2 separate regions of the Homo sapiens genome follow, and region 1 is reported to be linked to region 2. Evidence: microRNA targets listed by miRTarBase, many of them from high-throughput screens and not tested one by one. Region 2 holds a microRNA gene; the other region holds the end of a gene's coding sequence.
What was found. The annotated mature microRNA hsa-miR-4684-5p reads CUCUCUACUGACUUGCAACAUA and lies in region 2 at 2,798-2,819, shown strand. An mRNA with a match to its seed (bases 2 to 7 or 8) in the 3' UTR can be bound and repressed. Matches are read on the target gene's strand: a 7mer-m8 pairs with bases 2 to 8, a 7mer-A1 pairs with bases 2 to 7 and ends in A, and an 8mer does both.

Region 1: miRTarBase lists C1GALT1 as a target of hsa-miR-4684-5p. Seed matches in the 3' UTR shown: 7mer-m8 at 2,389-2,395.

Annotation. Positions count from the first base shown.
Region 1 is chr7:7,243,219-7,247,753 of GRCh38, reverse strand. It overlaps C1GALT1 (core 1 synthase, glycoprotein-N-acetylgalactosamine 3-beta-galactosyltransferase 1), which reads right to left. Exons shown (of 4, transcript NM_020156.5): 4 at 1-4,230. The coding sequence ends at 4,027. Among named protein-coding and RNA genes, the nearest start is that of LINC03016, 9.7 kb to the left of the region's middle.
Region 2 is chr1:22,716,733-22,720,732 of GRCh38, forward strand. MIR4684 (microRNA 4684) reads left to right here and starts at 2,785; the gene lies at 2,785-2,866. All of the region lies in intron 1 of EPHB2 (EPH receptor B2), which reads left to right. RefSeq lists an enhancer at 432-1,121.

The DNA of each region.
Region 1 (4,535 bases), not on the chromosome of region 2:
AAGTTAGTAATAAAGCAAACAAAGAAGGGCAATAAACACCAGGCAGAAACTGTCAAAGAATTATAGTCTAATGAACTGAAAATTGAAATGGCAAATAAAATGCTAGATGTAATTTAATCAAGGGATTCTTTCAAGTACAGTGCATCAACCTGGTAGTAACTATAGTTTGACAGTCTCAAAGAAGTGAAAAATTAATATTCAAGAAAATTGTGAAAATAACCAGTTAGCAAATTTACTGCTCAAATCCAATTCTGTATTCAAAAAATATTAAGAGCTGATCAATGATTTATTTTCATACCTCATTACAGTAAGAAAAAGCCCTCTGAAATTTATATTTGAAAGCAAACTGGGACAAAAATCTGCTTTATCTATGAACTTCCCACTAGAAAATACAAGCATACCATTATTAGAGAACATAAGACATCAAAAGCCTTATGTTTTAAAACCATACTGAAATCATTTACCAAATAACAAAGATCTTAATCTAAAAGATAGTGAATACATCATCATCATGAAATCTGGTTTTATGTGCTCTATGAAGTACTTGGAGAATTGCTTTTTTATTTTTCTTTTGCTTTATTAGGTCACACAAAACAGAATGAATTAGCAGAAAAATGTATGTTATAAAACAGCATTTACTACTTCAATTTAATTTTTTTTACTAACAATTGTGGACCTTTTTGATGACACTTATGTATGTTTTTAATAAATTATGTACTTATTAGTACTTAATGAGCCCTTCCTGCCTCAATATAAAATTACTAAACTTGGAGAATTACAGATTTTATTGTAGGCCCTGATGTTAGTCACTTTGGAGAAGCTAAAAATTTGGCCAAAATGAATGATCCAATGATCCTTTAAGTTATCTTTATATTTAATATAGTGTGATCCTGGACTACACTGATTTAAAACATGCTTTTTGAAAAATGTCTTAGTAATTGGGCAGTAATCTTCAGTGTGTTTCAAACACTACTTGCACCAAAATCACGTAGGTTGTTGGGTATTGGTTCTCAAACTAGGATAAGAAAGACACCTGCAGAGTTTGCTTAAACACAACTGCTAGCCCCTGCCCCTGCCCCTGCCCCTAGAGTATCTGATTTAGTAGATCTGATCTGAGATGAGGCCCCGAGAGAGGCTGCATTTCCAACAAGTTCCCAGGTGACGTTAATGCTGTTTGTTGGGACCAGACTTTTGACAGTCACTGCCCAAGGTATCTGGTAAGAATGCATACTCTTGGGCCCCATGCTTAAATTTGAATTTCTGAGATTGGGGTCTTCAGATCTGCATTTAACAACATCCTGGGCAAGTGTGAGAACCACAGTTTAAGAATCACTGTGACAATTTGGCTGGGTTAATTTGACTATTACTGGCCAATGCATCAGACGTCATATATCATATACATAAAAATGGAAATAATGCTACATGAATAGCCCCAAGCCTGATACGGTTCCAATGAACACACAGGGTTTTGAATATAAATCCTACCTCTGTTACTTACTAGCTTTGTGACAGTGACAAAGTTACTTTGTCTCTGAGCCTCAGTTTCCTTATCTATAATAGGGGTATAACACCCAAATTTTGAGGATTAACACTATTATACACAGATTATCTAAGCACAGTACCTAGCATACAGTTGGCATTGGATAAATACTAGCTATTACTTATTTCCTTCAGTATCTGGTCAAAGCAAATTTTTCATTCACTTAAATGCAGTACTTACACTCCAAGGTAACAGAATAATAATACAATCTTCTATTTATTGCTCCCTATCAATGTTCTAAAAACCTTACATTTATTTAATCCTCATAAAAATCCTGTGAGGTAGGTAGTATTATCATCCCTAATTAAAAGATGAGGAAATTGAGACACAGAGAGATTAAAATTGCTCAAGGTTACAAAAACAGTAAGTGTTAGAGCAAGAATTTAAACCCAAGCAAGTCTGACTCTAGAGCCCAGGATTCATCACAATATTCATTTCCTATGAGCAAATCTCAAGGTTTTTGGATATCTATAGTAAACCATTTATACTTCTAGTCAAGTAACACATATGAAAATTCATGTCCACACCATGGTGAAGAGTTGTTCAAAGAATAAAATGAATGCCTTGAAATTTTGGCAGATGATACTACCATGATAATAGGTAAAAACTGGTGCATGTTTTCACTACGTGGACAGAGTAGTCCATGGTTAACCAATGAAATGAACATCCTCTCAAATATACCATTCAAAGAGGTCATGATTTTGACATGTTTTGGCACAATAAATAGAAATTACTTAGCCGGGTGCTGTGACTCACGCTCGTAATCCCAGCACTTTGGGATGCCAAGGTGGGTGGATCACCTGAGGTCAGGAGTTCAAGACCAGCCTGGCCAACACGGCAAAACCCTGTCTCTACTAAAAATATGAAAACTGGCGGGGCGTGGCAGCGCGTGCCTGTAATCCCCGCTACTCGGGAGGCTGAGGCAGGAGAATCGCACCACTGCAGTCCAGCCTGGGAGACAGAGTGAGACAGTCTCCGAAAAAAGAAATTACTTAGCTAAATAGCAGAGTCAGTGGCATGACTGCCATGTAAAATTGGCATAATGATAAACATGAGGGAAATGTAAATACTTTGTACCATAAAAATAATCTCATAGAAAGTCTGTAAAATATTCTGCTATGACACTCAGTACTGCTAAAGATAATAAAAATAAAAAATTTCTTTCCTTTCAGAAACTCTTTAAACAGAGTCACTAAAAATAGAATGAAACATTTGTGAATGTTTTTGATGACAGTCTTGACTAGGTATTCTGCATTGTTAGAATTATCCATTAGCAAAACAATTATCCCAAAATAGCACCAACCTTCAGACTGTTATTTATAAATTAAGTATCTACTCTTTCAAAATATAACATTTTTGTTTAAGCACTCTACATTTTCTATTGTTTTTAATTCTCATCAAAATCTTGCTTTCTAAATAATCTTGCCACTGTAACTAATAGCCACCTCAGATCCTATAAACTAATTTTAAAACTCTGCTTTAAACAAGTTATGAAAGGCACAAACAAGTTCTCATCCCAACAGGATGAGAATGAAATAAACCATAACTATGTAGTTGGAAAGAGTTTAAAATATCAATTTAAAATGTCACTTAGTAATTCCTGAGAGTGGCACTGTTATAAGAAAAGCATCCTGAAACAGCATTAAATTTATTATTAGTTACCCATAATGAACAATGGGCAAATTTGGGAACAAATATGTAAAATACATGTTTACAGAATGCTATGAACGGTTTGAGTAAATTAATGTTAATAGTGGAGAATGGTATTCAAGAGTGGCTAAACACATTTAGAAAAGAGACAACAGAGATTGCGTAAAAGATGACTAATTAGAATCAAGTATATAATATAGTCAAGGCCCATGATAATTTTAAAGTGTGGTTTTATTAATGCACTTCAGGGTAAGTGCCAGTCTTATTTTAGCTTCTTCTGGAAGAAATACTACCAATTATAAATAATCACAGCAACATTTTCATTAGACAAAAACTGTGTGTGTGGGTGTGGTAGGGGGGTATCATTTATAGCATACTGCAAATATAAACTCAATTCTTGAGCTATATTAACAACACTGAGCAACAATATTTCTTTCTAAAATTTTCTTTTCTTTAAGGCAGATCTGTTTATTACTAACATGGTGCAGTGTAGTTTTAGTAAATTTACTATTTTAGTTTCTCAGTGACAATAACACAGATGGTCAGAAAACAGGCAACAAAATCTCTTTTCTAGTTCCTCTACCTGGCCACCATTTAAAAAACACAAGTTCCTCATATATATAGACATATTTATATATTACTGTATCAAAACACATTTTAACACACTTCACAGCTCATTTAAAGCTTCAGTTTATAGTCATTCATGTGAAAGGTTTCTATAAGGAATGTTCACTTAGAATTCCTCACTGGGATTCCAGTGTTCTATGTCAGAAATGCAGAAGTCCTTTTTCAGTGCAGTGCTAGACATATTACCTTTGTTCATTCATGATTTTCTTTCAAGGATTTCCTAACTTCACTTTTGTATCTTCATTTTTGTTTGCTTGACTAATTTCCTTTAGTATACGTTCAGGTAAGGTAGGTTGATATCTGTATAAATAACCATATGGACGAAGATGATAAACGAGGTATTCTAACTCATACATGGTTGTAGAATCAACATAGTGAAAAGAAACTGCAAGATCAGAGCAGCAACCAGGACCCTAAAAAAGTAGTGGAAACAGGTATTGTTAATAAACAGCACATTGCTAGCTACAATATTTACATACTTATAAAGGACCAGCTAATTTTAAAAGAATACAAACATTAAAGATGGCAAGGTAAAGCAGAGGAACCTAATGTACTAGACCTGTGGAAGAAATCAATAGTTTACTTAGACATCCTAATGATTTAAAACCAATTGAAATTGGTGAAACCAAGTGAAACTGTGGAAAGTATTTTTAAATGAAACAATATTCTCTCACACTCTTTAGCGGATAAAATTACTGAGATTTCTTCAAATCAAAGG
Region 2 (4,000 bases):
TGGAGACTGGACCTCTGCACATAGAAAGGCCCCTAACAGGAAGGGGCAGATGGAGCCTGCTGGTGACAGGATGCCTGGGCTGGGCAAGGCAGGGGACCCATGCTCCCACTGAGGGTGGCGGAGATGCAGAGCACGGTGGGCCTCCTGACGGGAGGATCTTCCACACCTCCGACCAAGGACCCGTCTCCTGACCTGGCACCTGCATGCCTGACTTAGCTGGAGATCTGGGAGATGGGGAACAAGGTTGGGGAGTCTGTATTTTTAACATACTCTCCAGGTCTTTCCATTAGGCAGGCAAATTTGCCCCCCAGCGGCCTATGATAAAACACAGGACTCCTGGGAAAGAGGAAGAGAAACCTCAGCAGGAAACTGGAAAAGACTGAAATGAAGTGAAATCAATCAGAGTTAGCGCCCACCAGCCCTGGCTGCCGCTGGCTCGTGCATAAAAAGAGGGTTAGCTGGGGGAAGGCAGGGAAGGAAAGAATGTTTGCACAGCTCCCAGGGGTGGGGCAGCAGGCCAGGCAGTTGTTGATTGTGGCAGCACCTGGAGGCTCCCTGATTGGGATCAGCTCAGGCCTTCTGATAAGGCTGCCTTGAAAGCATTTTAGGGCCTTTTAAAGCAGCTGCCTTCCGGAGGGTGCAGGAGGGGGACACCTGTCTCCCCAGTACCCCCGTGTCATCTGGGGGCTTGCCTAGGACACCCTCACTAGGTGAGCTTCCTGGAGCCATCTGCCCCCCTGCTGCAGCCCCTGTGGGGTGGGAGTGTCCTCAGAAGAGGGGACCTTGCCTGCTGTGTGGCCTTGACCAAGTGATCCACTCTCTGAGCCTCAGCTTCCTCATCTGGAAACTGGAGAATACCGCGCATGTGTCAGAGGCTCATGGCGAGGATTCAGTGAGATGCTGTGTACCATGACTGGCAGAACTGCCTGGCACTCAGCTGTGTCCATTCTTTATTAGTTTCCGTAACCATTAAATGTCAGCAGCACCCTCGTGCCCCTGGCCAGAATGACTTGTCCCTTTCTCTGAAGTCCTACAGAGGCTTTGCTTAGCCCTGATCACTTTCTCTCCTGTTCTATAAACAGCAGAGCCTGGGGGTTACAGGAAATGTGTGTGGAGTCAGACTGCTCCGTACTGTGTGTCCTCTGGCTTGTGTTTTCACCTCTCTGAGCCTTGGTTTCCTCATCTTTCAAATGGGGGTAATCATTGTTCCTAGCTCTTGAGATGGTTGTGAGCAATGGATGTGTTAATCTGAGGAAGACTAAGCTGAGTGTGTGCCTCAGGTGTGCTAAGCTTGCAATAAATGTGAACGGTTGCTATCCTTGCTTTCTACCAATGGGAAGCTCAATTCACAGTAGGGGAACAGGGGGCCAGTGTACCAGGTTTTTCATCTCCAGCTCTCCCCCACCCACTGTGTTCTGAGCCTTACAGGGCAAGGGTCTGACTGGCTTGCCAAGTAGCTGAGAGGCCCCTCCAGCCTGCCCACTCAGGGTACCATCCAGGTTTTCTCAAAGGCCCCCTCCCCACTCCAATTCAGCCTCCCTAATCTGGGAAAGGGGTAGACTCCTTCATGGCTGTACCCTCCTTCTTTGCCCAGTGCCTGCCAGGCACCACCTTCCCTGCCATGATCATGGGAATGGCTGTCAATTCTTTTTTTTTTTTTTTTTTTTTTTGAGACAGAGTATTGCTCTTGTTGCCCAGGCTGGACTGCAGTGGTGCAATCTCGGCTCACTGCAACCTCTGCCTCCCGGGTTCAAGAGATTTTCCTGCCTCAGCCTCCCTGAGTAGCTGGGATTACAGATGCCTGCCACCATGCCCGGCTAATTTTTTGTATATTTTAGTAGAGATGGGGTTTCACTATGTTGGTCAGGCTGGTCTCGAACTCTGACCTCAGGCGATCCACCTGCCTCGGCCTCCCAAAGTGCTGGGATTACAGGTGTGAGCCACCGCGCCCAGCAGCTGTCAATTCTTGTGCCAGACATTGTACTAACAGCATTATGTGTGTTGCCTTGTGCAGTTGCCCCAAGAGCCCCACAGGTCGTTGTATTATTGTGCCCATTTTACAGATGAGAAAACCAAAGCTCTGAGAGGAGTGACTGGCCCAAGGACACCTAGGGAGTGGTGAGGCAGCGATTGAAACCCAAGTCTGGTGACTCCAGAGCTCATGCTCTTCTCCACTTCTAGAATGTGCCTCCCTGCTCAGAGGAAAGGCTTGGCTCTGATGAGGGTCTCTAAGGCAGCTGTCCAGCTTCCAGCTCCATCAACATCCTGAGATAATGCAATGGGAGGGTTCTACAACTCACAAACCTGCCATAAAAATGCAATCTCTGTGATAATGGTCAGAATAATGTTGTTCTAACTTAGACAAATCGGGTGTTAACTCATTATGTTGTAAGGGGCGCCTCCACAGAGAATGGAGACTACGAAACAGTCACAGGGCCATTTGCAGCTTGTACTTCCAAATACAATAGCTCATCAGGCCTTCACAGCCATCCTGAAAGGGGCAGGAGCCACGGGGCCCACTTTAGAGATGAGGAAACTGAGGTCTGGGAGATAATATGACTCGCCCAAAGCCAGCAGCGGGACCAAGCTTGAAGCCCAGGGCCAATCTTAATAGCTCATCTATCCAGTTCAAATTCTTAGCCAACATTTGAAAATCAAGAGATTTTACAGAAAAGTCCTGTTTCTGGCGTTTCTGAAAAGTCAGACAATCTGGTTTCACAGGGCCCACATTCCCACATGGCCACAGTTGGCTGGAGTGACTGCCTCTTAAGACAGAATGTGTGAGCACCAGGGGTACCTCTCTACTGACTTGCAACATACATTTGTCTTGGTGTGTTGCAAGTCGGTGGAGACGTACCCTTGGTGCTCAACCCCTGTAAGGGCTTGAGTTTGCCTCCTGGATCTGCCCCTGTTACCCTGTGTGACCTGGAGTCAATTGCATGGCTTCCCGAGCCTCAGCTCTCTCTTCTATAAAATGACAGGGGTGAGACTCAGTGATTTTGGAGGCCTCTTCCAGCTCCAGGATTCAGTGCCCATTGCCAGGGTTCAGGGGTTCAGGCAAGGGAAGGGAGAGCTACAAAAAGTACAGGACTCCACTCCTGAAAAGCATATCACTTATCTTTAGCAAGCCACCACAAAACCTACTGGCTTAAAACAATAATGATTTCTTAGTTGTCCTGATTCAGTGGATTGGCTGGGCTCAGCTGGGTGCTTATTCTGTTCCCCGGGTTGTCAGTTGGGATCACTCAGGAGGCTGCACTCAGCTAGGTTGGGCTGGAAATTCCATCGTGGCTTCACATACATCTTTGAGGCCCTCATAGAGAAGGCTGGAAGGCTGGTCCCCCTACGCTCCTCGCTATCTCCCATCCTTTGCTAGTCTAGACTGCGCCTCTATCCATGGCAATTAGCTCCCAAGATGGTGAAATGGAAACTGCAAGGCTTCTTAAGGGCTGGGCTCTAATGTCACAAAGTGTCACCCCTGCAGCCTTCTGTGGTGGTCAAAGCCAGTCACAACACCAGCTCAGATTCATCCCAGGCTTCCTCATCAGGTTCAAGGAAAAGGAAAATATACTGGGCTTGATTTTTTTGTTTTATCCTTGAAGAGAAGTCCCATTTCTTGCTCAGCTGTTCAGCATGGAAAATTTAATGGTGGGTTATCCAGCGTCCCACTCAACATGTCCTGACCCACTGAATCAGGTGACACTCAGAGTTCAGTGCCCGCCCCTGCACCCTGTTGTTGTCCATGTTTCTTGGGCCAACCTGTGGTCCAAACTTGAATCTAGACGCCCCCTTACTGGGAGGAGTGGCTTCGTGTTTAGTAGGGGGAGGAATTGTTGGCAGCCATATTTGGAGACAGCCTCTCACAGGTAGTTTATCGTCCAGTCCAGGGATGGCGGTGGGGAGGCAACAGGAAGCCAGAAATCTCATTCCCCCCCCCCCCCGCCCCAGCACTTACCCCCGAATTGTCTTCAGTGTTATCTGCCTCTTCTGAGAAGGCAGG